Linked DNA regions of Homo sapiens: region 2 is linked to region 1. The links come from fine-mapping of genetic effects on gene expression. A gene starts in region 1. The other region holds a variant in brackets. All regions are shown on one strand. Distances are from middle to middle. Region 1 holds the start of GGA3 (golgi associated, gamma adaptin ear containing, ARF binding protein 3). Region 2 overlaps GGA3 (golgi associated, gamma adaptin ear containing, ARF binding protein 3).

Region 1 (3,008 bases):
TGGAGTCAGGATGTCCTCTTTTTGTGAAATTATGGCAGTAGTGCCTGCTTTGCTAGAATACTTGGTAAACTAATTTAATGAATATCTGTAAAGTACTTTGAGCTCCTTGGAGAACACTTCCATATATAAAGAAGCCTTATGACCTGCCTGCAACTGCAGATTTTGCAAACGTGATCTTACTTTTTCTCTCTTTTGGGATATGCTCCCCTTTAAACTGAAGCTCAACCTCCTGAAGGGGGTTTCTTACTAGGAAAAATCAGACAATTTGAGGAAATAGCTATCACCTCCAAGATCCCGGAAGCAGTACTAAATAAGAGACCTCAGAACAAGGCAATACTAGGTATCTCACCTATCCCATTACCAGTCCAATTTCTCTCTCCACTTAAAGGAGGCTTCCAGGTCTAGCCTACAGGAAAGTTCACTTATTAACCCTCAGGCAGAGTACTACCTGCTAACCAGGTTAACACACATTTCCTTCGTAGCACTGTAATTCACAGTGCAATGACAGCAATACGCTTCTATAACTACAGCTTCAGACTGTGCTCCTCAGCCTTACTCAGAATAGGCTATCAACACTGACTCGTTAGGATATTCAAGGGGGTATATGTATGTGTGTGGGGGGGGAATTCCCGACACCGATTTCACCATGCTTCTGTGGTCACTGCAGGAAAAAGGTAGAGCTCTCTGTTCTCTATCATCGCTCTCTTTGGAATATTATTCTCACTTCAAGCATTCTGCCTGAGCGAAGCCGTCACTTCTCCAACACATGGTCACAATTCTGAAGCTGCCAGGCGACTGAACGCAGTCGGCAGCACCCACCACTACCGGAGACTCAGCCCCAATCCGAAGCTTCTCCCTTAGTCAGGGATTGGGGCGCTGGGTTCCTGGTGTCACCGCCGGGCGGCGACCCCACCACAATCTCCCCAAAGCGCCGAAGCATGTCAGCCCGAAGATCTTGGCTGTCGCCTTTCCCCGAGCCTGCGGTGCCCGACAGGAGCCCGAGTTCACGCCGCCGCGCGCCAGAGCAAGAGGACGCGCCGCAGCGAGGGAAGCGGGGGCCGGACTGGGGCCCGGCGCCCTGATAGGGAAGGGGCGTGATCGCAGGCTGCTCGCGGCGAGGGCGAGACCGGGCGTGGGCTGCCAAGAGGCGACGCCGTGGAGCCCGGGGAGGGGACGTGGGGGTGAAGACAGGGGCAGCCCAGCGGCTCGAGGGCAGGCAGAAACGGCCGCGGCTACTCACTGAGCCAGGACTCCAGGCTTTCCCCTTCCGCCTCCGCCATATTGCAGCCGCCCGGCCCCGCGGCTTCAAAACTCGCGAGAGTCTGCACGAGCTGAGACGGGGCGGGGCCTGCATGGGGTCCTGAGAGGAGTGAGTGCCGTCACCGAGGGCCGCGCCAGACTGCGACGGATACAGGGAGGGCAAGGGTTTCCTTTTGGCGCTCCCCTTTGGACCCCGGAGTGAAAAACTCTAACGTCCAGATCAGTGGAGAGAAACGCAGATTTAGGACCCTGAGGAGTCTTTTTCACCCGTTTCCCGTCACTCGCTCAGGCGCGCCGAGGGCAGTCCTTGTGGGGTCCTCGTGGCCAGCCAAGATGGCTGCCCCCGCAGTGAAGGTTGCCCGAGGATGGTCGGGCCTGGCGTTGGGCGTGCGGCGGGCTGTCTTGCAGCTTCCAGGGTGAGAGGGTGGCGAGCAGCGGCGGGGGGGCGCTGCGAGGAAGGAAGGGGGCCACAGGCAGGCCGCGTGGGCCCCTAGAGAGAGCATTGCCCTGGGGGCCGGAGTATCTGGATTCAAGCTTCTAAGTTAGCTGCGTGACCCTGCGCCAATCCGAAGGTTTAGTGACTACCTCTCGCCTAAGGAGTCTGGCTGATCTAGGGTTCTAACGCGGAGCTGAAAGTGCGGTTCAGCTAAAGAGCTCAGATCTGGGATCGCCTGTGAATTGGGATGGGTGTGTAGGCGCCAAGCCCATCCTTACCGTTAGCACTTGACCAGGAGGAGACTTTACCCGCCTGCTTGGGGAATGTCCTCCTACTTGGGACAAGGGCCTGAATTGTTGTGGCTCAGGTTTAGCTCGCGGTCTCCGCGCCGCTCCCCCTCGTCGGCGCGTTGGCAGTCATGCCTATTGTTAAGTCAAACCTACTCGCTTGTGGAGTCAGCTTTTGCCTGCCTCCTCCTTTCCCCCCCTCCCAGGCTAACTCAGGTGAGATGGAGCCGCTATAGTCCTGAATTCAAGGATCCCTTGATTGACAAGGAATATTATCGCAAGCCAGTGGAGGAGCTAACTGAGGAGGAGAAATATGTTCGGGAGCTCAAGAAGACTCAGCTCATCAAAGCTGCTCCAGCAGGGAAAACAAGTTCTGTGTTTGAAGACCCAGTCATCAGGTTAGATGGAAACAAACACTTGTTACATGGACTGGGACTATCCCAGGGAGGGTTTCTGGTGAGGATTCTGTGATACAGCCTTGGAGAGCTAAACGTGTTGCTTTTCTCTTTGAAGTAAATTCACCAACATGATGATGATAGGAGGAAACAAAGTACTGGCCAGATCCCTCATGATTCAGGTAAACAGCACTTCCCTCCTCAGTCATCTTTCTTGCCCCCCTACCCCGTAGCCTTGTACTTGGTACTTTCAGTGTAGCTTAAGAGCAAATGGATTCATGTATCTATTATTCAGATTAACTTCCCTGCATGTGTACGGGCTTTAATGAAGCCCTGTAAGAGTCAGCAACTGCCATTCCTTGGTGTTTCGGAAGTAAACACACAATTAAAAAAAAAGGAACAAATAAAAAATAAAACAACTGCCATTCCCCACCTCACCCCCCACCCCCTCCATGCCACAAATCTCAATCCACTCTTTCTGTCCTAGTCTAGCAAAGGGGGAGGCACTTAAAAACTTTGTTTTGGATGTGCTGTGAGAGGAGCTGCATTGCCAGCGCAGAACCAGAGGATGGGAGTAAAGGGCAAGGTACTAGCTTGGCTGGGTAAACCCTTTAGGGAGCCTGGGGCAGC
Region 2 (2,500 bases), 22 kb before region 1:
ATTGGCCAGCAACATGACCTGGGTGATGGCTGCAGGTGGCTGGATGGGGCTAAATGGAGAGAGTTCTGTCCCAGAAGGTGGCTGCAACTTCACTTTCATTGACTAAAGAGAGAGAAACTCCTTTGAAGAGAACTGGTAGGTGCCCCCAGATGGAACCTGCAGTGCACACACACACTGCCACCTGCTGGCTGCAAAGGCCTCTACACAACAGGGTCAAGATAAGGCCGTTTTGGCCCCAGGGAGACACTGGTACCTTGGGCACTGCAGCCTGCAGCACGATGCTCTTGACAGGTAAGGGAGCCGTGTTCAGCATGGACACCACCACCACCAGCACGTCAGGTCGTCCTGGGGGACACTCCTTGGCAAAGTGGAAGAGGATGCGGAAGCCGTTTTTATCGTAGGCTGTCACAGGAAGGGCACTGCCTGTAAGAACGTGACGTGAGTGTGGGAGGAGCAGCACCAGAGACACCCAACAGAGCCCCGGCGGTGAGGAGAAAAGGGCTACTCCGTGGTCATGATGAGTCCAGTGCTTCCTAACGGAATCTGGGAGAGGCGCTCAGTGAGGAGCTTAAGACTGAGAATGCAGGCAGGGAGGCCTGCCTGGCTTTAAGGGACCCCCTGCAAAGAGTGCCTGGATCCATCCCTGTCGCATGTCCTACAGCTCCGTGGCTATAGGCCCCACCGCCCCACCCACCTCAATCCTCCAACACCTACTAGGCTTGATCGATTCCAGGGGCACGTGGATGCTGGCCAGGGAGAGCTCAGGCCCCTTCGGGGGGCTGCCCTGGGACTGGAAACTCAGTGGCTGGAAGAGCGGGCTGCCGGGCCCCGTGGAGAAGGGCAGGAGGGGCCTGGCTGGGGTGGTGGTGGGGATGAGAGGGGAGGTAGTGGGTTTCACCAAGCCCGAGGTCCTGGGAGGTGGGAAGGATGGAAAGCACGTCAGAGAGCCAGCCAGAGCTGCAGGACTCTCACCCAAGGCCCCTGACCATGCTCTTACCCAGGCCCACCCCTTGCCTTCCAGCCTGACTGATGGGACTACAAGGCACCCCCACCCCTTCAAAGTTAGCTCTGGTTCTGACACATTCAGGCCCAACCCTCAGCAACCCCACATCTCCTCCCACTCATTACACTTTGGCCTCTTCTAGAAGCTGATCGAGGGCATCCAGGTGGTGCAGCGCGCTGTTGCCCAACGCCAAGCCATGGTGCCCAGGGACTGCGGGCTCAACTTTTGGGGCCAAGGCTGGGGCCACTCCAGTAGAAAACAAGGAGGAGCCCGCACTGGGGGCAGGAACACTGGCTGGGACCACAGGAGCTGGGAAGGGAGGCGGCAGTGGAGCTTGGGAGCTGCTTGAGGAGGGGGCTGAGGGCTGGAGCAGAGGAGC[A/G]TCGGAGGCGCCACAGGCAGCGGTCCCCGGCCTGGGGCTGAAGAAGTCCAGGTCGGACTGTTCCCTCTATGAACAACAGAAAGGGTGGTGAGCCGAGGGCGGGTGGGGAGGGCCTGCCGCTGGAACGGGGCGCAGCCCTCCAAGGACTGCACGGAAGACAGCCCCGGAGGCACTCATTGTTCCCCGCTGCAGCTGGCACGCTCTGGAGGGAAGGACAGCTAACTGCAGCCCAGGAGACATGACGCTGGAAAGTGGAGGTCCTTGGCACAGTAGTGCTGTCACCGATCCTGTGCCCCTACCTGGAGCAGGTGCCACTGGCTGTTCCCAGCTGACTCTTTGGGAGGAACATTAGGGGCTGGGTCGGCGAGGCCTGACAATAGAGAAGAAAACAGGATGAGAAGAGGCTCTGAGCTAGGCAGCCCTAGCCCCGCCTTGCCTGAGGAGGGGTCAGGTGACAAGTGACATCAATGGGTGAAGGCGCCGGGAGAAGCTGTTCTGCAGGCAGCCTCCAGAGGGGAATGGAGCGCTCCAGTCCATGATGCAGAAGCGGGGGGCCTGTGGGGCGGGGTGCAGGGCAGGAGGCAGAGTCCACCGGGAGGATGGCCCTGGGGCCCTCAGGGTCGCTGAACTTCACTGAGTACCTCCAACTCAGGGTTCTTTGCCCACCCCAACAGTCACACTGGGGCCCCGCTCAGGGCTCCTAATTCCACACACCCTTCCTCCCAGAGCCCTGTCAGGGGATGCCCCTGACGCCCCCTGTGGGCCGCACCCAAGCAGAGTAGCTCCTCGTCCAGCCAGGAGAGGGCGTTGCTTGTGCTGCTGGGCCCCAGGGTGGCCTCGGCCTGGCTAGAGGAGCGGCTCCGTGGAGGTCCTGAGGCCTGGGGTGGTGGAGGGAGGATTGGGATGCCTGAGGAGGGTGGAGTAGGTGCTGGGGCCAACACGGAGGACAAACTGTTGGTCGTGTCCAGCTCCGCAAGGTCGATGAGCGTGCCTTGGTTACTGCACTGACTGTTTCCTGGATGGGTCAACAGAGCAGAACAGGAATAATTAGGGGTCTTCTAGTGGCTGTGTGGCAGGAGGCAGCACCCTAGGCACAGAGGTCACTGCTACAGCCTCTG

What was found. PIP is the estimated chance that this variant, and not a neighbour inherited with it, causes the effect.
Region 2: its variant is fine-mapped to the expression of GGA3 in whole blood (TOPMed, PIP 0.98).

What each region holds. Positions count from the first base shown.
Region 1 is chr17:75,260,308-75,263,315 of GRCh38, forward strand. It overlaps GGA3 (golgi associated, gamma adaptin ear containing, ARF binding protein 3), which reads right to left and starts at 1,299. Exons shown (of 17, transcript NM_138619.4): 1 at 1,241-1,299. The coding sequence starts at 1,280. It overlaps MRPS7 (mitochondrial ribosomal protein S7), which reads left to right and starts at 1,572. Exons shown (of 5, transcript NM_015971.4): 1 at 1,572-1,676; 2 at 2,190-2,381; 3 at 2,497-2,560. The coding sequence starts at 1,594. RefSeq lists enhancers at 705-804, 1,275-1,684, 1,481-2,358.
Region 2 is chr17:75,238,661-75,241,160 of GRCh38, forward strand. GGA3 (golgi associated, gamma adaptin ear containing, ARF binding protein 3) reads right to left here. Exons shown (of 17, transcript NM_138619.4): 11 at 2,152-2,397; 12 at 1,682-1,752; 13 at 1,129-1,448; 14 at 715-911; 15 at 254-423; 16 at 1-102. Among named protein-coding and RNA genes, the nearest start is that of GGA3, 22 kb to the right of the region's middle. RefSeq lists a silencer at 1,988-2,282. The variant A/G (reference allele first, on the strand shown) is at 1,383.